Homo sapiens: one gene and its partners. The protein of the gene in region 6 interacts with the protein of the main gene of each other region in a biochemical or structural test. Each region holds a gene or a part of one and is shown on either strand. Other genes may lie near its edges.

Region 1 (4,174 bases), on a different chromosome or scaffold from region 6:
GACCTGGTCTGGAGGATGGCTTCCTTGGGGGTCGGTGAGGGAGGCTGGGAAGAGGCAGGAAGCCAGCACCCAGGGCTGATCTAATCAGCTGAGATAAGGCTGCAGCGTGGGCTCTCTACTCTGCTCTGAGAACACAGGAGGTTTGTTTACATCCCGAGAGCCTCCCTAGCCCTCGGATCCAGCAGGGATTTCGGATCTGCTGCCTAGATTACAAGCTCCAACTTCAATGCACCTCTGTCTCTGAGGCCCTGAGGGAGCCAGCCCCCTCCTGGCTGTCTCCACCGGTAATCGGAGCAATGCCCAGCTTGGTTACTGGGCTGGGACAGAGGGAGGCTTGTCTCTTTGAGACCTGTCTTTTACAGATTGGAAAACTGAGGCTCAGAGAAGGGAATTGTCCACGATCATCCAGGGAGTTAGTAACAAGGGTGCTGGGTCAGCTCCTGGCAGGGAGACATCCAGAGGCTCCTGAACCCTTCCCCCATTTCTAGCTGGCACCCTAGGATCCTGGAGTTCTTGCTGTGGGAATGGGCTGCCCTGAGGCTTGGTGAAAAGCTGGTTGCAGGCAGTGCCAGGCCTGGCTCTCTCCTGAGTGATTGTGTTCAGAGTAACCCGACCTTGAAGGCGACATTTGAACCCTCACTCCACCCCCACCCCCAGACCTGGTTTAACCATTCAGGCACCAGAGCACCAGACCATGGATTGGTGTGTAGTTTCTTTTTACCTTCTAGATTTTTATTTATTTATTTTGTCCCTGGGGACCCAGGTCCCCAAGTAGAATTTCAGGTGTTTCTGGTCACTGTCATTTGCACCTTCGGGGAAAATAAAAATGGTCTTTACCTCTGTCTGCTTAGGACAGGTGGTCAAAGCTGTGTGACCTTGGGCAGGTCTCTGACTATCTCTGTATCTTTTTTTCACAGTCTGAAGGGACCTGATTGGTTGTTGAAAAGTCTCTGGGCTCAGAAGCAAAATGATAACCTATTATAGATTATATTCCTTTACAGTTTGCAAAGCACCATCTCCCTGTCCCCAGGCTAGCTTCCTTCCAGCAACAGAACTGCCTCTGCAAGTTTTCCCAGGCCTCTGATCCTTTGAGCACTGATCCCACTGGCCAGGAGGAAGGCAGGTAGGGGTTAATCACAGCCACTATTCATTGATCACGTGCTGGGTCCCTTGCACACACAAATGCATTCCTCTTAATCCTCATCACCCTGCAAGGTGCTACCAGCCCTAGTCACAAAAGAGGAAACTGAGGATTTCAGAGATGAAATAAACTCCCAAGCTCATATAGTTAGGAAGTGGCAGAACTCACACTTGTGAATCTGCCTTGATGCACAACCACTCTGGGTGGTAGAGTCACAGTTGTGGGCCCCAGGTTTTAGCCATTCTGGGGAATGTCTGGCCCTTAAGAAGTGGGTGGGGTGGGGAAGAACAGTTACGAGTAGTGTACGCTGCTGGGGGTCTCCTGCTAGAAATCATTCTGGTGGGTCCAGGTGTTGGAGCCCCAGGTACTCACCATCCCCTCTCCCCACTAAATTTGGCTTGCCCAGTTATTACCCTTCTGGTCTTGCCTCCTGAAAGAAGGGTCAAGTGTGTCCCCGACCCTACCTCCCCTGGGGAGGAGCCAGGTCGGGAGAGGCTCTCATTAGTTCACAGTTATCCAAGCCCTGACCCTGAACTCCTCTCTGGTGCCCCAGCCAAGTTTCTGTTCCTTTGTTTAAGTGATATCACTTTCACCTTTGTTTACTCCTAGGCAGGGACAGGGTTGCCCTGGAGCCCTGGCCCAGCCAGTGTGTTGTGGACTGGCGGGTTAGGCTGGAGAGAAGTGAAGAGTGGGTGGCAGTGAGAAGCCTAGTTGTGGTTGGGACGTGTTCTTGAGGAAGATCTGGATTTGAATCCCAGCTCTAGCTTTCTAGTTGCATGACGTTGGATAAGTGACTCAGCTGAACCTCAGTCTTCTCATCTGCAAAATGGGTAGAGCACCTTGCAAGGCTGTTTTGCCATTTAAATGAACTTGTATAAACAAAGTACCCAGCATGGTGCTTGGCATGTAGTGGATACTCCTTTTAGTCACTCATGCTTTTCCTGGGGTGATAGAAGCCATAGGATTTGGGGATAGGGTTGGGATAGGACCTTTTCGTAGCTTCATGCCTATAGCCAAAAGACTAGATGGGGAGTATAACTGTAATGACAGCTGCTGCCTGTGGATTTGCTGAGACCCTTAGGGGCAGCCAACACCCTGGAAGGGGAGAGAAGATAATTCCAGTCTGGGAGCCAGGATACCTAGGTTCTAAGTCCATCTCCGCTGCCAGCTGCTTGGATGACCTTGGCAAAATCCCTTGTCTTGTCTGTTTGCTAGGTTATAAAATCAGATACCTTCTGTTGGCAGGTGTTAGTTTCTGTAGAACAAAAGAGCACTTCCCCTCCCTTCTTTCTCCCCAACAGTCTGGGGAAGAATGTAGTATCTCTAAACCCCCAGGCACTAATCCCAGATCCCCACCAGCCACAGGGCCAGCAGAGTCTGTGGGACCTAGGCCCATTGCCCTATTTTTTATTTTTTGGAGACAGGGTCTTCCTCTGTCACCCAGGCTGGAGTGCAGTGGCACGATCGTAGCTCACTGCAACCTCGACCTCCTGGGCTCAAGTGATCCTCCCACTTCAGCCTCCCGAGTAGCTGGGACCACAGGCGTGCACAACCACATTTGGCTAATTTTTGTAGAGATGGGGTTTCACCATGTTGCCCAGGCTGATCTCAAACTCTTGGGCTCAAGTGAGCCTCCCACCTTGGCCTCCCAAAATGTTGGGATTAAGCCACTGTGCCTAGCCACCACTGTCTTACTTAGTTGGTAATTTCTGTTGTGTGTTCATGAAAGGGACAAAGATACAAGGAGACTTGAGAGCCCAGAGAGGGTGCCTGTGCATGTATACACACGAACACACATGCCTGGGCAAAGGTGGGGTGAGCTGAGGAGAACAGACCACATTCTTAGCCAGGAGCAGGGCGGGGTCCATCTCTGGTCAGGGCTGGGCCTGGCTGCTGGGTGGCCTGGTTCTTCAAAGTCACCCCAGACTCAATGGGCTTTATCTGAAAAGAGGGCGGAGGAGAGGAGGACCGTTGGTGCCTTCCCAACCTTTACACAAAAAAGAGTGATTGCCCACAATCCCACGGGGCTTGGTCCCGTCTTGCTGGCCTAGTCCTAAATGGCTCTTATCCACTTTGGAGTTGCCTTCCCTCTTGTCAGAGGTCATGGGTGGAGAAGGGACCAAAACAGGGCAGAGAGGGGGCTTCCAGAGCTCAAGGAGAGATTTAATTCCCTGTGTCCTCCTATCACCACTGGGAGCTGGAAGAAGTTTCTTCCCAGCCCCTTGACTTGCTGTAGGAGGGAAATCCTGGGCTCATCTAAATGCAGCCTTTGAAGACTCCATCTTTTCAGAGCTTTGAAATAGGATCGAATCCAGGCCGTGCCGCGGAGCCCCGGGGTGACTTCAGACTAGACTAGTTTCTTTTTTGGAAACTGAGTATAAAAATGAAGGGTTAAGGATGAACAGGTGCCCACAAAGAGGGCTGAACTGGGAATAAATCTTGGTTTCAGCCTTGGTTTTGCTGCTGACTTGGCTGCAAGATCTTCACGCCCCACTTTCGCTCATAGCCTTCATTTCTCTAATGTAAAACGGAGGTAATTCCTAACAGCCAGTGGGCATGCTAATCCCATGGGTTGTTTTGAAATACCTCTTAGCACTTTCACATACTGAAAGAGAGGCTGGATGCATAAACAACCTTCCATGGCTCCTGGGGGCAGTGAGGGGTGGGAAAAGGTCTCTCAGCCTGAGACAAGTCTCCTGATGGAACTACAGCCCCTGTTGAGGACTTTGACCTGGTCAACAGCTGGCCAAAGTGTACCATTCTTTCTTTCTCCCGGCTAGATTGACCCCCCTACTTAACAGGGCTCCCTTGGAGCCTGGGGCAGGCTGGTGACCCCGTGTACATATGTGTTCATGCGTGTGTTTATGTGTTTGTGGTTAAATGTCCAGGTCAGTGAAGCCTGGGTTCTGGCCCAGTGTGGCTACTTCCTGCTTGTGTGGCCTTGGACAAGTGACTTTACTTTTCTGAGCCCTTGTTTCCATCTCTGCAAAAAGGGACTATTAAAAGGACCTAGACAGGCTGTGTGCTTGGTTA
Region 2 (4,345 bases), on a different chromosome or scaffold from region 6:
CTCCACCTGTGCCTCTAGATGTAGGTGGAGGGGGAGTCTCCCTGATCTCCCTTGCCCCTCACACACCACCCTGCCCCAGTCTTGGACCCCTCCCTTTCTCAGTGGGCCCTGTTGCTGGGCTCTGGGTTGCCATAGTGACGGTTGCCAAGTCCCTGAGGCTGATAGCCAGCGATGGGGCTGTCGGCTCCATCCACGCGGGAGGCTGAGGGGGGCTTCCCATTGTGTAGAGAAGGGGATGTTGCCATGACAACCAACCCCCACTAAGGGGCAAGGACCAGCCTTTCCACCCCCTACGAGCCTCCCCACTTCGGGCAGCTCCAGTGTGGGCTCAGAAGGCAAGAGTAAATTCCAGACAGCCCAGTACCTGGCCTCCCAGCTTTCAACTCCCCTCCTGCGGTGCCCGCACCTCTCAAGACCCAGGCATCTTGCTCAGACGGGGAGGGGGAGGAGCAGGGGTCCCACTGGACAGAAGAGAGGAAGAGGGACCCCTTGACCTCCAGACAGATGGGAGACAGCGGGAGGGGACCTAAAGTCAGGGGAGGGGCAGGGAGGGCAGAGGTTGTGACCCCTGCTGACTCGCTCCAGTGATGCTCCTGACGGCTGCTTTTGTGGTTGGAGAATGGGGCTAAGTCTAGGGGACTGGGCACCTGGGCTTTTTGGGGGAGAAGAGCCTCGGTTATGGGTATACAGGGAGCCAGGGCACACGCAGCTTGATGCCTGGGTCCCTCCCTGAGTCCTTCCTACTTCCTTCTGATCAGCCACATCCCTTCTCCCCATGAGTCCCCAACAGCAAAACTTCTCAAGTGCCTTGGGTAGGGATGGTAGGGAATAGACTTTAACATGTGAACATGTTTTTACCACTTTGATCCTAATTGCGTCTTACCCTGTCTCTGGTGCTTTGGCTTAGCAAGACACTCAGACTGTCCCCATGGATGAATTGGCGACCCCACTCCTGCCTGCATTACTCTCTCCCTCCCCTAGAGGTGACACCTTCCTCTGCCTTCTCGCCCAGCCCATTTTCGCCTCCCCAAGCACTGCCAACCTCACCACTCCAAACTAGCCCTATCCCTACCCACCCCCCTTGGTTGGTTTCATGCAATCCAACCCTCAGCTGAAAGCCATTCTAACCAAGCCTTTGTCCCAATTCAAGTCCAGTCATTCTCCAGCCTTCTTGTCAACTTTTGAAGTTTTTTATTTTTATTTTTTTTGGTTTTTGTTGTTCAAATTTCCCTTTTACAGTAAAACTACTGAGGTGACGGCATACCCCGCCACCATGGCAATATCAACTTCCTGTTCCCCAGAAGGAGCGATTAGAAAAATCAGGAAGGAGCTGGGAACTACAGCACCAGAGAGGTGAACTTGACCTCTGGTGGACAAAGCAACCATCTTGGCTGGTGATTGAGGTGGCCAACCTGGTGCCCAACAACAGCTTTGATCTAATAAAACTGAGCTGGGAGGAAACTGAGGCAACACCCAATTGCACACTAGAGGGCAGGAAGAGGTATCAGCTGGTCACTATGGAAACAGTGGCCTTTGCTAAGTACCACTGTCAGCTAGACCAGCCAGTAGGCCACCATTTTGGTCACTAAGAAGGGAACTGTGTTGAGTCTGAAAGGAGTCAGAAATGTAGGATGGAATGAACAAGACAGCCATCTGGGTTACTCGGGAGAGCACATGGGTTCTTGGGGTAGTCCTGTTGATTAACAGAGATTATACTGGGATATGGAAAGGAAAGAACAAGACAAATTAGGCCTGCCACAGCACATGGCAGTCATCTTAGCTGTCCTAAAATCAGCACAGAGCACAAGGGAAGGGAGATCTTGGGAAGTGCCACTGAAGACTGGGAAAAGTCCTTCTCGGTCCACCTCTAACCTCTTACAGTCAGTAAGTTCCAGCTTCCTCCTGAAAGGAAGTTCTTCCCGCCCTTCTTCTCCACAGAATAAGAACCATCCACCTCCCACCTCCTGATCCCCCAGACTAAGCCACTTGGAGTTCCAGCCAGACCACTTCCTGTTTCAGAAGTGCTACTTCCTGTCCTGGATGAAGGCACTTCCAGTTCCTGCTGCACTGCTTCTGCTACTTCCCAGGCCATTTCTGTCCGGGCCTGGTCACCTCTTGTCTGGAGCAAGTCACTTCCGGTCCCAAGTGGCCCATTCAGCATCAGACCAAGTCCATACATGTCCCGACCGGTTCATATCTTGCTATTGGCCACTGGACAAAACGGGACACTTCTTCTCATGGTAGCTGTCATGACCCAACCACCCCAAATGGCTGGAGTAAGTATGTAGAGGCCTGGGCCAGGCCAGAGAATGGAGCCCTGCTGCCCATGGCCTGAGCTGGGGTGGAGTGTCAGAGCCTTCCCCATAAGGCCCCCATTTTTGGCAGACTGAGGGGAGTGGTTGGTATGAGAGGTCAGAAGGGGGGCTGAAAGCTAAGGGGAGAAATGCTTTGATGCCCCCACCCAGGAGATGGGAGAGGCACAGGATAAGAAGCCAAGAGGGTGAAAGGAGATGTGGGGAGGAGGATGCTAGGGAAGAAGAACAGACCTAGAGACGGAAGAGAGGGAAAGAATAAGAGATAGAGAAGAGAAAACCAGTGAGAGGCAGAAAGAAGGCGGTGCCAACCAAAAGGTGGGCTGTTCCCGCCCCTAGCTCTGGGTGGGTGAGGGGGACAAGGATGCCTGGGTCATGGTCAGAGAGGAGGCTGAGCCTGTGCCCCTCCCCAAGGAAAAAGGATCCAGGGACACTGAGACAGAGGGGGGCACCCATGGCCAAACGGGAGGGCAGGAAGTGGGGCAGTGGGAATCCTAAGGAATCCTAAAAGTGGAGACGAGGACAGCAGCCGGGAGGAGTGAAGGGGCTGGGGGGGCACAGGGGGCCGAGATGTTAGAGGTGTCCCTCAAACCAGGAATTAAACTGGAGGAGCACCCCAAGAAGGGCTGGATTCAGGATAGCCACGTGAGAGGAGCCCTCATACCTTGTAGTAGATGTTTGGAGGGCTCTGGGGGGGCCCATCCTGCACGATATACACAGGATGCCCATAGTCACCACTCACCTTCTCATAGTGGGGGCAGAAGGGGGGATCTGCAGCCCCGCCACCCCGCAGAGCTATCCCTAGCTCCCCAGGCTCAGCCTCCCGAGGTCCCATCCCACCTCCACCCCCCAGGCCCAGAGACCCTCCCCTCCCGAAGGAGCCAGGACCAGGGTGGCGACTCTCCGAAGGCTTGGCCCGCCGTCTCCGCCAACACATGGCACCCCCAGCCCCTGCCACGCCCAGCAAGAGCAGCGCCAGCCCCCCTGCTGCCCCAGCCACTGCAGGCATGCTGGGAGGGGGCAGGGGGCCTTCAGCACCCCGGGAGGTTGCATTGCTGGTGGGGTCACCTGGCAGGGAAGGGGTGAAGGAGGAAAGAGGGGGAGGGACTGAAGGAGCCACCTGGGCACCTGGACACCCAACCCTGGGGGTCCCCATGGGCTTCCCTTGTAGCGCCCAGGCCCCTTGGGGACCCCATCTCTCCTCCCCCTCCGAACTCTGCTCAGAATCCAGGTGTCCAGCCCTTCAGCTTCCTGCCACGGAGTCCTCCCCACTTCTCTGACAGCACTGATTGAAGCACTGACTTGGCTAATTAGTTCTAATTGAGTCTTTTCCTCATTTGGTTTCCATTCCCCTCCCACCCTCCCATCCTCTCTTCTCCTCTTTCCTGTATCACCGCCCCCAAAACTGAAGAGGGAGGGAGGGTGACGGCAGGGCAGCTGGGGTCTGAGAGCAGAGGAAGCTGGGGAAGGCAGGGGCCTAGCCCCTGGTTCCTACCTGGCAGGTTCTCCTTCCCAGGCTCCAGGCTGTGGGCTGCCCCTCGGTCTCTTTCCATGGGCATTTCAGACACAGGTTTTCGGGGGACAGCCCCTCCTCGGGGACCTGGAGATGAGGAAGACCCAGAGAGGGGCTGAGACAACTGCCCCAACCATGATCGTACTGCCCCAACGTCCCTTCGTGCCCAGGAGGTGTCCCCCAGCCCCACTCACTTTGTCCCACTCGGAGAAGCACCTTCATGCCTCTGGTTAGGCACACACCTCCCTGCAGGCTCTCCAGGCCCTCCCGGGTCCCATCCGATGTGGCTGGGAGAGAAAAGCCAGAGGAAGAGGTTGGCACTCCAGAATCTAGCCCTGATTCTGGCCCCACACCCTGGTGTGAACACTGCCTGAGGGCACTGGGATCTCCCTCTTGGCTGCAGGGGTCCCCCTCCCTCTCTGCTCAGTATCAGGAGCCCCCCACTCAATCGTGCCCTCTGCCCAGCAGTACCAATGATGTAGTAATCGTGGTGCGAGCGGAACTCGTGGCCCCAGAGATT
Region 3 (4,174 bases), on a different chromosome or scaffold from region 6:
CTGGGGACCACTAGAGTAGAGAGGGAAGGAGAGGGGCAAGGATTGAAAACCTGTTGGTTAACATGCTCACTATCTGGGTGATGGGATCAATCATACCCCAAACCTCAGCATCATATAATATATCCATGAAACAAACTTGCACATATGCAGTTTGAATCTAAAATAAAAGTCAATTTTTTTTTAAATAACATGAAGTCAAAACATTTATTGAGGTATCTTCAAGTCCCACCCAAGTGGTAACACTGGCATAGTTAATACCTCTTCAACGTAAGATATATTTTATATCAGGCCAGAAATCTCAGGAGGTTATATTTCTACTGAAAGAACAAGTGCCCAATGCTTACAAATATACATATTTTTTCATCTTCTCATAGGTTATTTGCTATTAACATGAATGATTAAGACAAAATACATGCCTTTCTAGTGCAGAAGTTGAAGACAGAGAAGAGCTCCCTGAGCTTTGGAAGCAGGTACGGAATCTAGGTATTTAGAGGTCTATGGGGCAGAATCATTAGGTGGTAATATTATACACATAGCCCCAGTAGCCATCAACTCAAATATTATCACATTATCTCATAGGAATTCATCAGCACATGACTCTCCAGCCAGGATTTTTTTTCCTGTAGCTCAGGCAGATGCTCCAGGGCTCCTTTCTGCAGAACAAAAAACTCTCTAACCTTACATACGCCATCTTCAAGTTCTTCTGGAGGCAAGTCGGGGTTTCTTTCCACATGGAGGTTCCAGCGATCTAGCTGTACAACTGTCCCATCTTCCACTTGACACAGGATCTTAGAAACAGGTTCATCAGTGTAGCCCTGAGGAATCAGAGAACATATCCATTGCTGTCCAGAGTGGAGAACAGTGAAGCCAATGCTATTTTACGCAAGGAAGAGCCAAGCCGTTATATTGTTTATTTTATAATTAGCAAGGTTTGAAGAGCAAATTTTTTACCTTGAGGTACTTAGAATTTGAGACAATACTATAAGTAAGATACATAGAAACACTAGTTCTGGCTGGTTTGAGCTGAGGAATATTTTTTGTCAGCAGCAAGAACCAATAGTCACCGGTACACATTAAGGGTCATACTGGAGGCTGGATGGCTACTTTGTTATCAGAGTAAAAAACAGGACTCCCCATGGCTCTCACTGGAGGAATTTGGGGGAAACACAAAACAAATGTGTTTGGAGAGGCAGGGAAAGAATCAAGGAGGGATTGGATTGACAATGCTTATCTATTAACACTCCCTCTCAATCACCTCTCCCTGACCTCCTTGGAAGACACCATTCTTCCCGTGACCTGAAGCAAGTCTCACTGAGGAATGGCCCTGTTAGGGAGCTACTTAATCCTTGAAGATCCATTACTGACAGCACGATAGACTGTCCTCAATAGGATATGCAAGGCTCTGATTTGGAAGGGAGAAGTTAACACTGATGATAACCTTAGTTGCCCCATGTAAATACGTTTTTTATTTCTACACTGCCTACTTTAAAAAAAGACCTGTGGAAGGTTAATTTGCCCAAAGGTCAACTAGCATCTACTAAATATCTGAATATAATTTTCACAGAGCCCAGCCCATGTAATGCTCTCATATGAGCAGATAAAAAGTTGGTGGGGACCAGGTGCAGTAACTCAAGCCTGTAATCCCAGCACTTTGGGAGGCTGAGGCTGGTGGATCACGAGGTCAGGAGTTTGAGACCAGCCTGGCCAACATGGCGAAACCCTGTCTCTAATAAACATACAAAAAAAATTAGCTGCACAGGGTGGCGGGCACCTGTAATCCCAGCTACTCAGAAGGTTGAGGCAGGAGAATTGCTTGAACCTGGGAGGCAGAGGTTGCACTGAGCTGAGATCGTACCACTGCACTTTAGCCTGGCGACACAACAAGACTGCATCTCAAAAAAGAAAAAAAAAAAGTTGGTGGGGCTGTATATGTGTATGCATATGTATATATACACAGTGTGTGTATATATATTGCGCCTTCTTACTATCTTAGTACTATAACATACGTAAGTAAATAAATGGCTGTTTAGTGACTGCAGAACGATTTCCCCCAAGCTTGCCTGAAGTTGGCTTCATTGTGGAAAGGACAGGTAAGTACCTATACAGCCAAAGCTCTGATGACACTAATCAAAACAAAACAAAATAAAATGCTAAAAAAAAAAAGTCATAACTCTCCCAAGTAAGGTGTGTAAAGTTGAACCAGATGTGCTATCCTAGCTGGGGCTGAGAGTCTGGATTAACTGAAGTCTGTATGATCCTTTTGCACGCAGACTTGAGGCCAAACTCACCCACTGTCTTTTAGTGGATACCTCAAAAAGCCGCAGGCCTGTGTACTAACCACTATATTTCTCTCATACCAAGCTTTCCTTTCCCTTCTAGCTGATTTTAAGTTTAAACTGAAGAAGCTACCAGATCAAATAAGGGCTCAAGGGCACTTTGATTCTCAACTCTAACTTATGCCTGGGACAGCAGCAGCAGTACCCCCCTCTTCCATTAGAACATCAGTGGATCTGGAATCCGGTTTGTTGTTTGATGATATGGGCAGTCCCCGAGAGCAGTTCTTACCCCTCCCCAGTTGAGAGTTCGAGCCAGGTCATTCCCAGTCCCCAGAGGAAGGACCCCCACAGGAGGCTGAGGGCTCAGCTGCAGTTCATCCAGGATGGAAAGGATCCAGCCCACCTACAGGCGTATCGGGGGCCAGAAGAGATATAAGAAAGATAAATAAGTTACAAAGAAAACAGTTTGAGAAACAGAGGCTTCCAAGAGCTAAACAGAATGGTTTTATTTTTCTTTAAAACATGTATGTTTTCATTCAGTGAGTAGGGAACAGAAAGGTCGCTTATCACAGGCAGTTACAAAATGGTTAAAGGAAAAAGGACCATTTTGCACATGTTCTATCACACAAGCAAAACTAAACCCATTCATGCGTGCGTTTAACTAGAAACACCCTTGTAAATTTCTCAGAGTTTAAGACTTTGGTAGTATAACAGGGCATAGGAGGGAATATAAAACTCAGAATAAGACTGAATTTCAATTCTGACTCATGCTGGCTGCATAACCTTGACTAAATTATTTAACCTCACTGAGACTCATTTACTTGATTTTCAAAATGGGGATAATAATACGTACCTCACACGATTGTTTACTAATTAAACTAAAATGTACATAAAGCACTTAACATGGTACATGGCCCATATAAGTACTTATTAAATGGTTGCCCTCTATAGTATCATCTTGGAAATTGATAGTGTTTTCCTGAATATCCCTCTATTTTCCTTAATGAAACATTATGAAAACATAATTATGGACAGACCTAGTACCTATTATAAGTTTAGGCAGGAAATTGATACTTATATACTAGAATCATATCCCTGTTTAATCTTTTTCTAAGATAAATAATACTTTGGGTTTAGTCTTATAACTAATTAGAAAAATTGACCAAAATTTGAAATGGCAAAAAGGAGTTTGAATGTCCTTATAATGTCATACTAAAATAGTGTTTCGCAGGCCTAAGAATTGTGTAACTGTAGGTTAACATAGATTTCTGTCCTATAGAGACACAAATGTCAAGAAGAGATGATTGCTTTAAAGTTTATAGTTTTATTCTCTCATAGGACGTTGATCAGTTTTGCATCAAATTTAGAAAAATTATTTTGATACGAAGTACATAATTCTTTTTCTCTAGTTCTGATAAATCAGCTTTACTATCTTGCAGGCTCCCTCATTAAAGAGCTAAGCAAATTTTTTGACATGTATTCATTCTATATTTGTACGAGTCATGTTTCTCAAAAATACTAGATCATTTGTTTATTGAACACTACTTCATATAAAACCCAGAACTAAGCAATCAAAATAAAGAGATAAATGAGCTAGGCTGTGACAGATAAGGTAGAAAGATTGCTCTCCAGGAGTTCACAGTAACACAAAGATGGACATACCGATGCTTTTTTTTTTTTTTTTTTTGAGATGGAGTCTCAATCGGTCGTCCAGGCTGGAGTGCAGCGGCAAGATCTCCGCTCACTGCAAGCTCCACCTCCTGGGTTCACGCCATTCTCCTGCCTCAGCCTCCCAAGTAGCCGGGACTACAGGCGTATGCCACCACGCCGGGCGAATTTTTTGTATTTTTAGTAGAGACGGGGTTTCACCGTGTTAGCCAGGATGGTCTCAATCTCCT
Region 4 (4,174 bases), on a different chromosome or scaffold from region 6:
AGGAACCTGTGATGTTGACACGATCGTGCTCAAGGCTGTTGATGGAGTAAGAGTATGAAGAGTGGACGTGGAGGAATCCGTACTTCCAAAGGTGACAGTAGTAGGTGCAGGAGATGTTTGGGTCCCAGTGGCTGACGTCAGTACAGGAGGGGTCTGTGTTGGGGTTTCAGGTATAACAACAATACTTGTGCTAAAGGAACTGATTGGGGTGTTCTCAGTAATTCTGAGGGTCATTCTCACAGTGGACATGGTGGGAGAGGTGGTGCCCACAAGGGATGAGGTTTCTGTACTTTGGATGGAGGGAGAAGATGAAATGATGTGTGTTCGAGTTGGTAAGGTACTGATATCAGTGGGTATAGAGGGAAAGTCTGTGGTTGTAGTCAATGAAGTGCTGGTGCCCACAGACGAAGGGGTGAGAGTTCGTAGGCTTGTGGTCGGGATGTCTGTACTCAGAGAAGATGGGGTTACAGGTGTGGGAGTCACCGCAGTCTCTGAGGTAGTAAAATGTGAGGTGATGGCAGTTGTGGATGTGCTGACTGTGGAGTAGATGGTTGAAGAACTGAGGCTGGGAGTACTCTCTGAGGTGGTCTCAGTGGTGGTGATTGAAGAAGTGAAGCCAGGAGTACTGTGTGAGGTAGTCTCAGTGGTGGTGATTGAAGAAGTGAGGCCAGGAGTAATGTGTGAGGTGGTCTTGGTGGTGGTGACCCACGAAGTGAGGCCAGGAGTACTGTGTAAGGGGGTCTCAGTGGTGGTGATTGAAGAACTGAAGCTGGGAGTACTGTGTGAGGTGGTCTCGGTGGTGGTGATCGAAGAAGTGAAGCTGGTAGTACTGTGAGAGTTGGTCTCGGTGGTGGTGATCGAAGAAGTGAAGCTGCGAGTATTGTGTGAGGTGGTCTCGGTGGTGGTGATCGAAGAAGTGAAGCTGTGAGCACTGTGTGAGGTGGTCTCCGTGGTGGTGATCGAAGAAGTGAAGCTGGGAGTACTGTGTGAGGTGGTCTTGGTGGTGGTGATTAAAGAAGTGGAGCTGGGAGTACTGTGTGAGGGGGTCTCACTGGTGGTGATTGAAGAAGTGAAGCTGGGAGTATCATGTGAGGTGGTCTCAGTGGTGGTGATCGAAGAAGTGAAGCTGGGAGTACTGTGGGATGTAGTCTCAGTGGTGGTGATTGAAGAAGTGAAGCCGGGAGTACTGTGGGATGTGGTCTCAGTGGTGGTGATCGAAGAACTGAAGCTGGGAGTACTGCTTGAGGGGGTCTCGGTGGTGGTGATTGAGGTAATGTAGCTGGGAGTACTGTGTGAGGTGGTCTCAGTGATGGTATTTGAAGAAGTGAAGCTGGGAGTACTGTAGGATGTGGTCTCGGTGGTCCCCCACCTGTGTGAGGTGGTCTCCGTGGTGGTGATCAAAGAAGTGAAGCTGGGAGTACTGTGGGATGTGGTCTCGGTGGTGGTGATTGAAGAAGTGAAGTTGGGAGTACTGTGTGTGGCGTTCTCAGTGGTGGTGATCGAAGAAGTGAAGCTGGGAGTACTGTGTGAGGGCATCTCAGAGGTGGTGATTGAGGAAGTGAAGCTGGGAGTACTGTGTGAGGTGGTCTCAGTGGTGGTGATTGAAGAAGTGAAGCTGAGAGTACTGTGTGAGGGGGTCTCGGTGGTGGTGATTGAGGTAGTGTAGCTGAGAGTACTGTGTGAGGTGATCTCGGTGATGGTGATCAATGAAGTGAAGCTGGGAGTACTGTGGGATGTGGTCTCGGTGGTGATCGAAGAAGTGAAGCTGGGAGTACTATGGGATGTGGTCTCGGTGGTTGTGATCGAAGAAGTCAAGCTGGGAGTATTGTGGGATGTGGTCTCAGTGGTGGTGATGGAAGAAGTGAAGCTGGGAGTACTGTGTGAGGTGGTGGTGGTTGTGGTGATCAAAGAAGTGTAGCTGGGAGTACTGTGTGAGGTGGTCTTGGTGGTGGTGATTGAAGAAGTGAGGCTGGGAGTATTGTGGGATGTGGTCTCGGTGGTGGTGATCGAAGAAGTGAAGCTGGGAGAGCTGTGTGAGGTGGTCTTGGTATTGGTGATTGAAGAAGTGAATCTGGGAGTACTGTGTGAGGGGGTCTCGGTAGTGGTGATTGAAGAAGTGAATCTGGGAGTACTGTGTGAGGGGGTCTCGGTGGTTGCGATTGAAGAAGTGAAGCTAGGAGTACTGTGTGAGGTGATCTTGGTGGTCGTGGTTACCAAGTTTGTTGTTGGAACTGTGGCTGTTACTGTGGTGAGGAGAGAGGAAGAGGTGGGTCGAAGAGAGGTCACAGTGGACAATGTACCTGTCATATTGGTGGAATAGGTGGTTCTGGTCGTGGAATCTGTGAGAGCACTAGTAAGAGAAGTAGGGTAGGTGGTCTCAGATGTAGGTGTAGAACTGGTGTCGGAATTGGAGAATGTGGTCACCAATGTAGATAGAGGGGTGGTGTTTGTGGTACCACTGGTGATCGCTTCTGTACTTGGGACAGGCGTAGAAGATGAAACGCTACTGGTAAATGATGGTAACGTATTAGTGGCTGTGGGCCCTAGAGGGGTGGTAGTTGTCATCGAAGTCACCGTATATGTGGAGGTGATTGAAGAAGTGATGGGGGGAGTAGAACTCACGGCTGTTTTGAAAGATCCTGTGGAAATGTCAGAGGTAGGAGTCAGTGTGGTGGTCTTAGGGGATGTGGCTGTTGAACTGGTGAATGTAGTCTGACCTGTGCCTGTAGTTGCTACAGTGGATGAAGGTGTTTCCATCTTTGTAAATGTTGTGAATGACATGGTGGTTGTAGGTGATGGGGTGGATTCAGCTGTTGTGTGGAGTGTACTGGTGATGGCTGGGGGTGAGGAGATACTCTGGGTGTGAGTGGTCCCTACACTGCTGGCAGACATGGAAGAGGAAAATGAATGTGTCACTGGAAAGCTTGTCAGGAGGGACCTTGTTGGAGTGTTCTCAGTACTTGTGAAAGTTGGTCCTCCACTGGGAGTGGTAGCAGACATCATGCTAACAAAGATTGAGGTTTCTGTATTCTGGACAGTGGGAGATGAAGGAATGACACTTGTTGGCCTTGCAGACATGCTGGAGACTGTGTACACTGAGGTGAGGTCTGTCATCATAGGTAATGAACCACTGATGCCCACGGATGAGGGAGTAATAGTTGTTGGTTGTGAGGTAGGGATACCTGTACTCACAGTAGATGGGATCATGGATGTAGAAGTCACCATGGTACCCAAGGTAGTGGGAACTGAGGTGATGGCAGTGGTGGGTGTGCTGGCTGTGGAGTAGATGGTTGAAGAAGTGAAGCTGGTGGTACTATGTGAGGTGGTCTTGGTGGTGGTGGTTACCAAGTTTGTGGTAGGAGTTTTGGCTGTTTCTGCGGTTGAGACCAAGGAAGAGGTGGGTGGAAGAGAGGTGGCAGTAGATGATGTCTCTGTCATAGTGGTGGGATAGGTGATTTCAGTTGTGGACTCTGTGACAGTGCTTGTGGGAGAACTAGGGTAGGCGGTCTCAGATGTAAGTGTAGACCTGGTGATGGTAATGGGGAGTGTAGTCACCAACGTGGATACAGGATTGGTGTTTGTGGTATGACTGGTGGTCACCTCTGTGCTTGGGACAGGTGTAGAAGATAAAATGCTACTGGTGAGTGGTGATAACGTATTAGTGGCTGTGGGCCAAGAGGTCGTAGTTCTCATAGAAGTCATTGTATCGGTGGGAGTGATTGAAGAAGTGATGGGGGGAGTAGAAGTCATGGCTGTTGTGAGAGATTCTGTAGAAAAGTCAGTTGTAGGAGTCAGTGTGGTGGTCTCAAGGAATGTGGCTGTAGAGCTGGGGAAGGTGGTCTGACCTGTGCCTGTAGTCGCTACAGTGGTTGAAGGTGGTTCCATCGTTGGGGATGTGGTGAATGAGGTGGTGGTAGTGGGTGCCAGGGCGGATTCAGCTGTTGTGTGGATTGTATTGGTGCTGGCTGGAAGTGAGGAAATAGTCTCTGTGTGAGTGGTCCCTGCACTGCTGGCAGACATGGAAGATGAAAATGAATATGTACTTGGGAAGGTCGTCAGGAGGGAACTTGTTAGAGTGCTGTCAGTACTTGTGATAGTTGGTCTCAAACTGGGAGTGGTGGCAGAGGTCATGCTGACAAGGGATGAGGTTTCTGTATTCTGGATGCTGGGGGAA
Region 5 (4,174 bases), on a different chromosome or scaffold from region 6:
GTGGTGCCATCCTAAGTCACTGAGGTCTCTACCTACTGGGTTCAAGTGATCCTCCCACTTTGGCTCTGCAAAGTGCTGGGATTGCAGGTGTGAGCCACGGCGCCTGGCCCACAAGAAAACATAAATCGGGAATTACACTCAGGGCAACCAACCCAACTTCTGGGGCTTGTGGGTAGGTTTCCCGCACTGATCACAGAACACTGGCCCCAACAGCAGGAACACGTGCTCCTTAATGCTCCAGGGAAAAGGCAACTTCTGGTTTCCGGGATTGGCACAGACAACCAAAGGCACAAAGAGCCCACAGTAGCCAGGTTAAGTGGAGGGATGCTATTCCAACTGTTCCCCACCCCAATCCTCACCTTGTTCTCCTCCTCAGCCAGCCTCTCAAACATATTGGCATAGAGCTTCTTCTCCCGGGCAAGCTGCCTTCGGATCCGCTGCTGGCACACAGCCAGCTGGGTCTTGGCGGCTTTGTTGTTGGGGTAGAGCTGCAGGACCTTCTGGAAATCAGCCCGTGCCAGTTCAAAGTCATTCACGGCCAGGTGGGCCTCTCCCCGGCGGAAGAGGCCCTTCTCGTTGTTGCTGTCCAGTTCTAGGGCCTAAAGAATGCAGAGAGGAAGCCACATTGTGGGAGCTCAGGGCTTGTAGCTCATCTGGCCTAGACTGGGTTCCAAAGGTACCCCTCAGGAGGATGAGGAGGAATGCAAGTGGCTGGCTGCACCCCAGGAAGAACAAGGCCTGAGGCATTAAATGGAACAATCCAGGGACCTCATTTAATCCAACAGGCAGAGAGGGAAGACAGCAGGTCTTTGGATGAAATAAAGACTTCAGACATTAACATTCACTTTAGAATAAAGCAAGTAGGTAAGCGGAGAGGCTAAGAACCAAGGTGGAAGAAAACTCTTTATGTGATTCTTCCCATTCCGTGTCCTCCTCCTTCTTGCCAACTGCTTCCCACCAAAGCTAAGGTTCTTGCTATGAATACTTGCATCCGTGCCTTTGGTCTGTAACCTCAGAGCTCCCACTGATCCACCCTGCTATCCCTGCCCTAGTCACCAAGGGGAAGTTTCAGACATGCTGGCAGCTCACCCAACTCTGCCTGTGAATGCTGCTTCCATGACCTCTGAGGGGGCCTCACCTTGTTACAGCTTTCAATGGCAGCAGAGAAGGCCTGTAGTTTCAGATGACACATGGCCAGGTTGAGGTGAGAGGCCAGTCGAAGGGCCTGTGCTTTCTGTGCTTCCTCATTGGAAAAACTAGACTCATATTCCAGCCAAGACACGATCTTCTTATACTGTAGTAAAGCTTGCTTGTATTTACCTTCCTGGAATGGGAGAGAGGCTCAGGCACCTGGCACAGTTTCAGTGGTACTAGGCTCTTATACCCTGCAGACATCAGTGACACATGGCCACAAGAGGTTCCTGCTCCCACCCTTCCCACTGGCAAGGCCAGCAAGCTCACATATATGAAGTGAAGATGGCAGGTGCCAACCTGTCCACTTCTTGGCAGAAAATGATCTCAGTCACCAAGGGAAGGGGAGGCTCAGAGCAACTCTTCCTGGGAGTGTCCTTAGGACAATGACTGTTGGCTCACCTTGAAGTACACAGTGCCCCGCTCTTTCACTATGGTGCTCTGTTCCAGCTTCTCTTCTGAATTCATCTCCCAAGACTCCTTGGCCTGCCACACCCCAGGAGAGAAACAAAGTTGTCAGCTACCCCAGAGTCACGTACAGGGTGGAACTTGACTTTAGATGGGAAGACCCTGAGCAAACTTACCTTTTCAAAACTCTTGAGGTGTAATTCATATTTCAGCTCAGCATTTGGTGGGATTTGGAACTTTTCCTTCCCAACACTGCCAAAAGCATAGCTGGAGGGGTGAAAAACACTATGTATCATCTTGGCAACACTTAACCTGCTCCAGGCTGAAAAGGCTTCCTGTCCATTTCCTGGAAAGTACCTTCCCATCCCTTGAGACTTGGTTCAAATGTTTGGCAAATCTTCCCTGGCCTCTTCACACTGTCAGATGGTCCCTCAGCATCCTTCATACCCTTCTAATAACTTACAGCCAGGCAGCAGTGTGATTACTAATTTAAATAGCACCTCACTAAACAATGAGCTAGAATTAGAAGGCAGAAACAATGTTCTATTAGTCTCTGAAGCCCTATAGGAATTTTCAGCAGTGCCTGGCATGTAGTAGCTGTTTCAGTAATGACTGAAATGAATTAATGGGAGAGGAAAATCTTGATGGCAGAGGAGAGAATCTGTAGCAACTATGACTGAAAAGACTGGGCTTAGATCCAAGGAGATGTAGACAATTGGGCCATACTTCTAAGTACACTGAGGATATCATAATGGTGTATGTTTGGTGTGGCCAGAGTTAAAAAGGATACAAACAGCTGGTTCTACAATTCATTTTATATCTTTGATCTTGGTTTGCCTGCCTGCCTACCCTACGAAGTGCCCACCCCTCACCTGGGCTTGAGGTACACGATGGAATGTTCTCCTTTCTCCATGCGCTGAATGGCCCTCTCCAGACCATAAGGCAGATCCAGGTTCTCCCCCTCGCCAATCTCAAAGCGGAGCTCCCGCTGGTCAAAGAGCTTGTCCTTGTAGTACCCTTCCAGTGCAACTGGCATGAAAGAGAGGCAGTGTACCAGAGTTGTAAGAGGGCAGGTGACTGAGGAAGGATGCCATCAGCCTCCCTGCATCACCCCCATCATCCCAAGATTCTCCTGTGTTCTCAAATCTGGAGTGATATGAAGAGAATATGGTCCAACCCCTCATTTTATGGACAAGAAGATAGGCTCGGAGAACGGAAGTGTCTTGCCCAAAGCCACACAAGGCCTAAATATCAGAATGAGAATTGAAAGCCCAGACTGTACTGTCTCACCCTCCACGATAGCACCCTCATTGGGCTTAGCATAGCCTTCACCGCGAGTCTGTATTCTGCGAATGATTCCGCCATCTTCCTCTTCCGTCAGATCTTCTCCCTTAAACTCAAACAACTCCACCTGTGGGACAAGATGTGACACAATTCCTTCCCATGCTAACTCATGGGCAGTGAAACACAATCTTTCTCATCCGAGAGAGTCCCTACTAACTGCCAGGCCGGATCTGACCACAAGGGCAGTCACAAGGAGTTGGGTAGAGTGGCACTTTTTTTCAGTTCTTGGGAGCTGCCCTAATCTCAACTTTGGTAGAGGTGGGCAGACTACATAGATTTCAGTTAAGCTGAGGAGAGCAATCTATTTGCTACCTGCTCTACTAACACGGACATATCAGGACGCGTCCCAGATAATCCTAATTCACACTACCTGATAAGCCCAACCTGGTAGGTATTAGAAATGATTACCCAACATCTCTCAGCAGTTTCTCAGTATTCAAGGGCCCACGGATTGGCTCAACCATTTTCAGATTGAACAATGTCAAGTTCTATCTCCTCAGTGAAGCCTTTTCTCAGCCCTTGACCCACAGGGGAGCTACTGCTCCCTCTTCTGGTCTCTAGAGCACCAATATTCTGTACTGCCATTTATAACGGGACATAGTTTCTGACATCCCGACTCCTTTCAGTATTCTTCTGGGTACCGCTCTGGAGATAAAGATGCCTTAACCCTGACCATGCTTTGAGTCTGGAGAGGGGCTTGTGCCTGCCTCTTCCCACCCGAAGCTTCTATTACTTCCATTACTAGCAGCAGCAGAGCCCTCTGCATTTCTCCTCCCATAAGGCCAGACCCTCAGCCTTGGCTACATTGTCTCCAAGAAGCAGGAAGGGCTGGAGGGCAGCCAGGCATTGGGCTGAGATAAGGCCTGGCTCTTAGCCTGGATCTCAGTGACCAAACACTCACCTCAAATACAAGCGTGGCATTGGGGGGAATCTTTGGAGGACTGCCTGCTGAACCGTAGGCATATTCTGGTTTGCAGGTGATGTGGCACACCTCCCCCACCTTCATGGTGGCTATGGCAATGTCCCAAGCCTTGATGACCTCCCCTGCAGGTACAGAAGCAAACAGGACCGCCTTAGCAGGGTTCTGATTCTGGGCTCAAACAGTGCTCCTGAAGAGTTACTGCACCACACTCATGGGGAAGCTGGACATCCTTTAGAAATGGGACCAGAAGGTGAGGTACCTGGTTGTATTAAGTGCTACCAGGTCTAAGAACTGTAAAAGATCACGTGA
Region 6 (4,174 bases):
CGCTCCCGCAGCAGGCGGTCCCGCACGGGCCTCTTGGTGATGTAGCGCGTCCCGTCGCTGCGGATCTTCACCTTCCACTCCATGCGCGGCTCCGACGGGGTGGGAGAGCTCAGGTCCTTGCACATGCTCACCAGGCTCATCTGGCTTTGCGCGTACTCCACGGCCGACTTCTGCTGGATCAGCTGCATGTAGCTCTGGTAGTGCTGGGCGTGCGCCGGGATGTGCGCGTGCTTGTATGGGGAGTGGTGATAGGAGGGCAGGTAGGCGCTGCCCAGCTTCTGGCTGGGCGTGGGGCTCCGGCTCCCGTCGCTGGCTCTCCGCTCTTTGCTTTCCAGGGGCTGGTTGGGGTCCAGCTCCTTCAGGGACGGGCTATAGGTAGGGGTGCCCACTTCGGGATCTTCCGTGATGGAGAGCAGATTCTTGGAGGCTGGCCCGTAGGCTTCCGTGGTCCCCACAGCCCCTTCGCTGCTCGGGCAGCTGATGCCCTCCGCCGCTCTCCTCAAGGAGTTGTCGGGGGAGATCTCCAGGGTGAGCGGGGTGCTGCGGCAGCTCTCGCCTGTGTTGTAGGCGCTCGAGCTGTCCTTGTCGGATTTCTCCGGGAGCTCGGTGATATCTGAGAGCTCGTGTCTGCGCACGTCGATGCTGGTGTTGTAGTTGCGGAAGCCGCTGTTGTGCAGCATCCAGGACTCGCGGTACTGCTCCTTGAGCTGCTGCATCTTGTGGGCGCGCACGATGCTCAGGCACTCCAGCTCGATGCTGCGCAGCTCTTCGTTCAGCAGCTCCAGCTCCTTGTCCACGCTCTCAGGGTCACTCTTGCCGGCGTCCAGGGGGCCGCTAGGGTAGTACAGGCCGTAAGGGGTGGCGCTCTTCACCTGGCACTTGAGCTCCAGGAGCTCGCGGAAGCGCTCGCACTCGTCCACCGGGATCCCCAGGTAGTCGGCGTCCGTGCAGTCGGCCGAAATGAAAGACTCGTTGCTGAAGGGCAGGTCGCCGCTGCCCAAGGTGTCCTGGCTGCAGGTGAGCTTCCTCTGCCCCGCCAGCGGGTTGGAGGATGCGGTGGCGTCGTCGCCATTGTTCTCTTGCTCCGAGCTCTCGTCATTACGGGTGCTCTCGTCGGTCCGCCCCACACCGCTGTCCTTCTCGTGCTGGTTGGACAAGATGGTGGCTGTATCTGTGGTCCCACCGTCTTCGTCGTGCTTCTTCTGCATAAACACAAGAACAAAGGGTCACAGTGAGGGAGGCCTGCGCAGCAGGTACTCAGGTTTGACCTTTCCTTGCGGTTTCTGGATAGGGCAGGCTGTACATTTCTAAGGCCAAGGGACAGCATCTGACAGTAGGACCACGTCAATAGCGTGGGCCTTAGCTACACCTACCCGTATCTACCTGGGCAAGTCACTTATTCTTGTTCTTGTCCTCAGTTTTGTAAAATGAGGATAATAGTCACTTTATCTCAATGAATGATTCTCAATGATTCTGTTAAATGAATCAGTACACAGGTAGAAGGATGTATAAAGGTCCTTGTTCAACTCAATAAGGACTCAATAAGTGGCTCATTAAGACTCTGACAATGGTAGTAGCATAGCAGGGAGCTAGAGAGCTCCAAGCAGCTCCTGTTAAACAGAGGGGATTGCTTTACTTTGGAAAACATGGCTTTTTGCAATCTATGGTAATGCCAACGCATATGTTTTCCAAACAAATTATCAGAAGGTCAGCTTTGCTTTGGCAATGTTGCTTAGATTTAAAAGCTTAGCTAGGGACAGTACCAGCTTGCATTTCACTGGTCTGGTGCTCAAATAGAAAAGTACTTGAGGCTGTTTTCTTGCTGCCTTCCAGGTGGATGGACTTCTGATGGTCTTTAGCACCATAAAGGGAGATGGAGGAAGCAGATTTTCCTCCAGCTCAGCAGGGCAGAGTGTCAGGGACTGGTGCGTGGGCGTTACCTGCTGCAGCACGCTAGCTGTGAATTGCATGGCCTGGTGGTGCTGCTCCTCCAGCATGTCCATGTGCAGGTCATCCAGAAAGTCGTTCCTGTCATCATCCATCCAGCCCTCATCCAGCTGCAGGCAAGAGCAGCCAACACATGCCTTAGAAGTTTCCTTTCATGTTCATTTATGTTTTTTTAAAAATGACATTACCTTGGGGGAAAATATTTCTAGGGCTTCCTCCAAGAGTCATCAAAATGCAGTCTGCCCAATGATTTGCTGTTAAGTCAGGAAACTATCCAACCCTTACATTAAACAGACCTCCAACCCTACACTACATCTGGGGAAGTCTTTAATATCCATGATTTTTTTTTTTCAGGGTGAAACTCTTTCATCCATCTCAGCTACCTTCAGTGCAGTAGGACACCTGTGTAGGAGGGTCAGGTAGATTTAGCTGGTCCACCTGCTTGCTGGACCAGACACGAGTTTAACAGGTCCCATAGAAAAATGATTTTCAGTGTGAAAAGAGTTCTTTCTGATACAGTAACTAGCTGTTTGGCTTGGGCAAGATATCACTTTTTTTTTTTTTTTTTTTGAGACAGAATCTCACTCTGTCTCCCAGGCTGGAGTGCAGTGGCACGATCTAGGTTCACTGCAACCTCTGCCTCCCGAGTAGCTGGGATTACAGGCAATGCGCCACTATGCCCAGCTAATTTTGGTATTTTTAGTAGAGATTGGGTTTCACCATGTTGGCCAGGCTGGCCTCATCCTGACCTCAAGTGAACCTCCTGCCTCAGCCTCCCAACATGCTGGGATTATAGGCGTGAGCCACTGAGCCTGGCTGGATATCACTTTTAAGAGGCCTTTATCTGCCTTGCCCAAAAAAGAGTGAACTATTCAGAAGTTGGCACTCTATAGCCCATGGGCTGAATCCAGCCTGGTATTTTTATAAATAATAATAAAAAAAGTTGAATGAGAACACAGCCATGCTCATTCGCTGACATAATTGTCTATGGCTGCTTTTGCACTAGAGTGACAGTCTAGCAGTCATGGCAGAGATGGTATGGCCACCCAAGTCAAACATTTACTATCTGGCCCTTTAAGAAAAAGTCTGTGACTGTGGGTGAGATGATTGCTGAAGTTCCCTTTGAGCTCATGAGGCTCCCATCTGTGGAGAATCAGATGCCCCGTATGCCACTGTCTGTCTCTCGGCTTTTTCAATCGGGTTTCATACTGATATGGTTTGGCTGTCCCCACCCAAATCTCACCTTGAATTGTAGCTCCCATAAGTCCTACGTGTTGTGCGAGGGACCTCGTGGGAGATAATTGAATCATGGGGGCAGTTTTCCCCATACTGTTCTCATGGTAGTGAATAAGTCTCATGAGATCTGATAGTTTTATAAGGGGAAACCCCGTTTGCTTGGTTCTCATCTCTCTTCCCTGCTGCCACGTAAGACGTGCCTTTTGCCTTCCACCATGATTGTGAGGCCTCCCCAGCCATGTGGAACTGTGAGTCCATGAAACCTCTTTTTTCTTTATAAATTACCCAGTCTCGAGTATGTCTTTATCAGCAGCATGAAAACGGACTAATACACATACCTAAAGAGATCTACTACTGGATTGCCCTAGATGTGTTGCTGGAGCCATTCTAAGTGGATCAAGAGTGCCACCTGGGTGAGTTCATGATTCCTCCTGTGGAAGGAGTTATTACAACACAGAGGTTTCTGAATCAGATTACTTGGGCCTGAACCCCTCCCTGCTTTATCACCCTCCTTCTGGGCCTTTCCTGGGTAACTTTTGAATCTCTGGGAACTTCCATCTCCTGGGAAGGCTCTCCTGTGTGTAAAGTGCTCCACGGAGGGCCTAGCACTTATTCGGTGGTCATATCAGTTTTAATTATTTATCATTCAATGTTTCTTTTAATTTGAAAGAGCAAGTTTTAATTCCCCATACTCTGCTATTGTAAATGAAACCTGCACAGATCAAGGCTGGAACATATGTCAGGCCTTGGGAAGTCAAATGTCTTGACGTGACCCCGGTTGTGTTTTCCATTCAATTCTGTTTCCTTTTCCTTCCCTATGATCCCTGCATTAATGAACGTCGTGGGCCTGCAGTATAGATGCCAGGGTGGGCATCTAACCAACCTTAAATGGCTAACTCATAAAGTGAATTCTGAATCACAGCAAGTTTGATTACATTTCCAGGGAACAAAGCACCTTCAAGTTCGCAGCCAATACTCAGGTGCTCTTTTG
Region 7 (4,174 bases), on a different chromosome or scaffold from region 6:
TGTCACTGACAGAACGCCTGCCATGGGGGGGGCCACGGGCTGCATGCCCCTCTTTACTGCTGACCACCTTCCCACTGGCTCCTCAGGCCAGAGAATCTCCAACTCCAGCCGACCCCCATCCATCCATCCATTCATTCATCACCCTAAATGTCCCCTGAGCTGGAACAGCATCTGCCTTCCTGCCAGGTGCCAGATGTGTCTCAACACAGCGCAGTGCCTTGCCTTGGAGGGCGGTCTGTAAATAATTGAGTGAACATTTATTGAGCACCTACTGTATGCTGAAGGGAAGCAGGTAAGTCACAAACCGGCTTTGCTGAGCTCCGTGCACGCATGTGTGCGTGCATGCGTGTGTGTGCGTGTGTGTGTGTGAAAGGGCATAAAGAGAAGGTCCTAGGAAGATGAGGGCAAGCAGGAGGGCACAAGGACAGAGCAGGGCTGGGCCTGGGCTGAGCGGAAAGCAGGGAATTTGGCCCGGCCTGGGATCTAGGCCCTGGGGAGAGGTGGTGGCTCTGGAGGAGCATGGGTGCCTGGACCTGGGTGGTCCACTGAGCAAGGGACAGGCGGCTACTTCTGAGGGCAGGACAGCAGCATCCTGGAAGTTGTGGCACCTATGTCTTTAGGAACCAAACATCCAGGGAAATCGGAACCTGAGCATCAGAACCTCTATCAGGGCGCCTCCTGGATTTCTACACAGGACAGTAGCTTTCAAGTTTTTTGACCAAAATCCGTAGTAAAAGCAAACATCCTGTTTGTTATTTTAACTTACTTTATATTTATTTTTTAGAGACAGAGTCTTGCTCCAATGCCCAGGCTGGAGTGCAGTGATGCGATCACAGCTCAATTGCAACCTCCTGGGTTCTTGCCATCCTCCCGCCTCGGCCTCCCAACGTGCTGGGATTACAGGCGTGAGCCACTGCACCCGGCTATATATTTAAAGCTGAAGTAAGAGCGTCACAAAATAATATTTACCCTCACTACATGCATAGTATTTTGAAATTTTCTTTTTAATTTCATTTTCGGAAAACAAGTAGTGCAACTCACTAAGTCAATTTCCCAACCCACTAACGGGGCAGGACCTGTGTGCAATTTTAAAGCACTGGCCTGAGTGGGGGTTAGGAGCGGTGAAATGGGATCCGGCGTGTGTCTTGAAGCTGTGACGGGCGGTGCTTGGACTCCGGGCTTTGTGACACACAACCATGTGGGGAATTGTTGGATGTTATGGGGGAATACTGGGAAAAGTCTGTTAGACCCCCCAGCTCACAGGACCGCCACTCTGCAGCCCAAATAACAGGGACTCTTTGGGGTCTGGTTCCAATTTTTTCCCCGGGTCTTTTAATAGAGCCCCCTCCTGCCCTGATAACAGATGCCATTCAGCAGTTGCTTACACATCTCCCAGGACAGGGCGCTCACCCACTTCTCAGGCAGCCCACTTGACTGTGAGGAGTAAGCTCTGCCGGGCTGCTGATGTAGCTGCTAAGTGGGGCCCCGCCCGTGGCTGGCTGGCCATTCTCCTCTGTCCTCTAGCCTGTTGTCTCAGGGAGCCGGGACAGCTCTGGCAAGTGGTCCTCTCTCTGCCCCACCCAGTTCTCTCTCTCTGCTGCCCAGCCACTGCCGGGTGTCTGTTGGGGGCAGCCTTGGAGCCCAGCCAGAGAGAGGCCCTTTCCAAGGTCAGGTGGGCTCAGGATCTGAAGCCTCATGGCGGGGCTGGCACTCAGCCAGCCTTGCCCACCAAAGCAGTTCTGGGGGCCTGGGTGAGGGAGGGCCGGGGGAGGCTCAGCTGTCCAGAGAAGTGGTACCCCAAGGCAGTGGCTGGTGATGGGGGTCTGGAAATCAGGCCCAGCAGTGCCCTTGAGTGGTTGGGTCACAAAGTAGTTCATATCAACGAGCTATGATACATTCATTCACTCACAGGCTCACAGGATCTTCCCAGTCACCCTCAGAAACAGATGCAAAGGGCCAGGCACGGTGGCTCATACCTATAATCCCACCACTTTGGGAGGCTGAGGTGGATGGATCACATGAGGGTCAGGAGTTCGAGACCAGCCTGGCCAACATAGTGAAACCCCATCTCTACTAAAAATACAAAAATTAACCGAGCATGGTGGTGCGCACCTGTAGTCCTAGCTACTTGGGAGGCTGAGGCCAGAGAATTGCTTGAACTGGGAGGCGGAGGTTGCAGTAAGCTGAGATCGCGCCACTGCTCTCCAGCTTGGGCAACAGAGCGAGACTCCATCTCAAAAAAAAAAAAAAAAGAAACAGAGGCAAACGCCCACCCTTACGGGGCAGGGGGTAAAGGCTCAGAGAGGTGAAAAACCTGCCCCAGATTCCGCAGCTGCTAAGGGGTGGAGCTGGACATGAACCCAGATCTTCTGTTTCCCAGTCACGGGCCTCGCCTGGGACAACTGAGGCTGGAGGAGCCTTGGGGTAGGGGAGGGGGAGGTGGGCCACTCCTCCTGTCTTGCTGAGAGCAGGCTGGGTTTCTCTGCCCCAGAGGGCAGGGCGAAGGAAAGAGGGAGTCAGGGATCAATTAGCAGAACCTTCCAGACACGAGTGGGCTTCCCCGGAGATGGGGAGCTCCCCGTGAGGAACAGTGAGGAGGGACTTGAGGCCCATTTCTCAGGATAACTGCAGAAGGGTATCCATGGGCACGAGGTTTGAAGGATGCCCAAAGCCCCTCTGCCTGCTCCATTTCACCCCCAGCCAGGGCCTCTCCAGCCTGTGCCCACCACCTCCCCTGTATGGCCCCAAGGAGCCCCTAATTGCGGACCCCATCCCATTTGTCTCCCAGGCTGAGTGGTACCTTCACACTCACAGGGCAGAGGGTCCTGGGCTTCTCAGGCCTATGAGGAGAGGGGAGGCTCCTGGGGGAGTCTAGGGTGGGGGCTGGGAGAGGAGCTGCAGGGGGTTGGGGGAAGCTTCACTGAGGTGTCCCAGGGGCCAACTCTGCCACCAACTTGAAGATGGGCACACCCCTCCCCTAGGCCTGAATCTCCCCATCAGTAAAATGGGGTCAGCTCCCCACAGCACATGCACCCTCTCCTGTGGCCCAGCTAAAGAACCCTCCCGTCCGGGTGCAGTGGCTCACCCCTGTAATCCCAGCACTTTGGGAGGCTGAGGCAGGCGGATCACAAGGTCAGGAGTTCAAGACCAGCCTGACCAACATGGTGAAACTTCGTCTCTACTAAAAATACAAAAATTAGCCAGACGTGGTGGCACACGCCTGTAGTCCCAGCTACTCGGGAGGCTGAGGCGGAAGAATCACTTGAATCTGGGAGGGGGAGGTTGCAGTGAGCCGAGATTGCACCACTGCACTCCAGCCTGAGAGACACAGTGAGACTCTCAAAAAAAAAAAAAAAGAAAAGAAAAGAAAAGAAAAAAGTAGCCGGGCATGGTGGCGCATGCCTGTAGTCCCAGCTACTTGGAAGGCTGAGGCAGGAGAATCGCTTGAACCCGGGAGGCAGAGGTTGCACTGAGCTGAGATTGTGCCATTGCATTCCAGCCTGGGTGACAAGAGCGAAACTCCGTCTTAAAAAAAAAAAAAAAAAAAAGGAACCCTCCCATCCCTGCAGCCCGGGTCGCTGGTGTGTGAGCTTCTCCCAGGACAGGCAAAACAGGAAAAGGCTGAGCACGCCCCACCATCCCCATGGGTGGCCCCCGATACACAGAGGGGCAAAGAGAGGCCCCCAGATGGACAGTGGCCTAGTCAAGGTCATGCGGAGCCAGTGAGGGGCTGAGCTGGGATTCGATCCCAGGCCCCTGACGCAGGCCACCCTTCCTACTGCTGTGACCAGGGAGTGCTGCCCTTCCCCTCGCTCCGATCTGGGGATTTTCTGGGGAGAAGGAGCTTAAAGAGACCCAGACCCTGCTCGCCTCCCACAGACCCCACAGCTCTGGGGAGTGTCAGTGAGAGAGGAGGGGCCGGCAGCCCTGGGAGCCATCAGGACACAGAGGAGTCAGGAGCAGCTCCGGGTTGAGAGGCTCTGCCACCATTGCTGAGTGACCCTGGGCAAACCCTGGTGGTCTCCGGACTCGGTTTCTCCATCTCCCAGGAGAGGAAATGGAGAGAAGGCCAATGCAGCCGCAGACAGGAGCTGCTGGGCCAGGCTTGGTGGGGGCTTCTCCTCCATCCCAGTCCCAGGGAGCTCCTCCGCCCAACTGCACCTCCCATGCCCCA

The links.
Region 1: the proteins of PDZRN3 (region 6) and SDC4 interact in a test that uses a peptide from one of them, tested with the Homo sapiens proteins (one large-scale study listed by IntAct).
Region 2: the proteins of PDZRN3 (region 6) and EFNB3 interact in a test that uses a peptide from one of them, tested with the Homo sapiens proteins (one large-scale study listed by IntAct).
Region 3: the proteins of PDZRN3 (region 6) and DGKI interact in a test that uses a peptide from one of them, tested with the Homo sapiens proteins (one large-scale study listed by IntAct).
Region 4: the proteins of PDZRN3 (region 6) and MUC3A interact in a test that uses a peptide from one of them, tested with the Homo sapiens proteins (one large-scale study listed by IntAct).
Region 5: the proteins of PDZRN3 (region 6) and FKBP4 interact in a test that uses a peptide from one of them, tested with the Homo sapiens proteins (one large-scale study listed by IntAct).
Region 7: the proteins of PDZRN3 (region 6) and KCNJ4 interact in a test that uses a peptide from one of them, tested with the Homo sapiens proteins (one large-scale study listed by IntAct).

What each region holds. Positions count from the first base shown.
Region 1 is NC_000020.11:45,338,124-45,342,297, reverse strand, and holds part of SDC4 (syndecan-4 precursor), read left to right. Parts: intron 1-4,174. UniProt on the Homo sapiens protein: Cell surface proteoglycan which regulates exosome biogenesis in concert with SDCBP and PDCD6IP.
Region 2 is NC_000017.11:7,708,202-7,712,546, reverse strand, and holds the end of EFNB3 (ephrin-B3 precursor), read right to left. Parts: coding exon 4,297-4,345; intron 4,113-4,296; coding exon 4,020-4,112; intron 3,913-4,019; coding exon 3,808-3,912; intron 3,381-3,807; coding exon 2,971-3,380; 3' UTR 1,175-2,970; downstream 1-1,174. UniProt on the Homo sapiens protein: Cell surface transmembrane ligand for Eph receptors, a family of receptor tyrosine kinases which are crucial for migration, repulsion and adhesion during neuronal, vascular and epithelial development.
Region 3 is NC_000007.14:137,584,532-137,588,705, forward strand, and holds part of DGKI (diacylglycerol kinase iota), read right to left. Parts: intron 2,680-4,174; coding exon 2,566-2,679; intron 816-2,565; coding exon 678-815; intron 1-677. UniProt on the Homo sapiens protein: Diacylglycerol kinase that converts diacylglycerol/DAG into phosphatidic acid/phosphatidate/PA and regulates the respective levels of these two bioactive lipids.
Region 4 is NC_000007.14:100,955,496-100,959,669, reverse strand, and holds part of MUC3A (mucin-3A precursor), read right to left. Parts: coding exon 1-4,174.
Region 5 is NC_000012.12:2,797,542-2,801,715, reverse strand, and holds part of FKBP4 (peptidyl-prolyl cis-trans isomerase FKBP4), read right to left. Parts: intron 3,988-4,174; coding exon 3,845-3,987; intron 3,011-3,844; coding exon 2,890-3,010; intron 2,629-2,889; coding exon 2,472-2,628; intron 1,867-2,471; coding exon 1,776-1,866; intron 1,678-1,775; coding exon 1,594-1,677; intron 1,325-1,593; coding exon 1,139-1,324; intron 600-1,138; coding exon 360-599; intron 1-359. UniProt on the Homo sapiens protein: Immunophilin protein with PPIase and co-chaperone activities. Component of steroid receptors heterocomplexes through interaction with heat-shock protein 90 (HSP90).
Region 6 is NC_000003.12:73,383,729-73,387,902, forward strand, and holds part of PDZRN3 (E3 ubiquitin-protein ligase PDZRN3), read right to left. Parts: intron 2,058-4,174; coding exon 1,941-2,057; intron 1,203-1,940; coding exon 1-1,202. UniProt on the Homo sapiens protein: E3 ubiquitin-protein ligase. Plays an important role in regulating the surface level of MUSK on myotubes. Mediates the ubiquitination of MUSK, promoting its endocytosis and lysosomal degradation. Might contribute to terminal myogenic differentiation.
Region 7 is NC_000022.11:38,444,719-38,448,892, forward strand, and holds part of KCNJ4 (inward rectifier potassium channel 4), read right to left. Parts: intron 1-4,174. UniProt on the Homo sapiens protein: Inward rectifier potassium channels are characterized by a greater tendency to allow potassium to flow into the cell rather than out of it.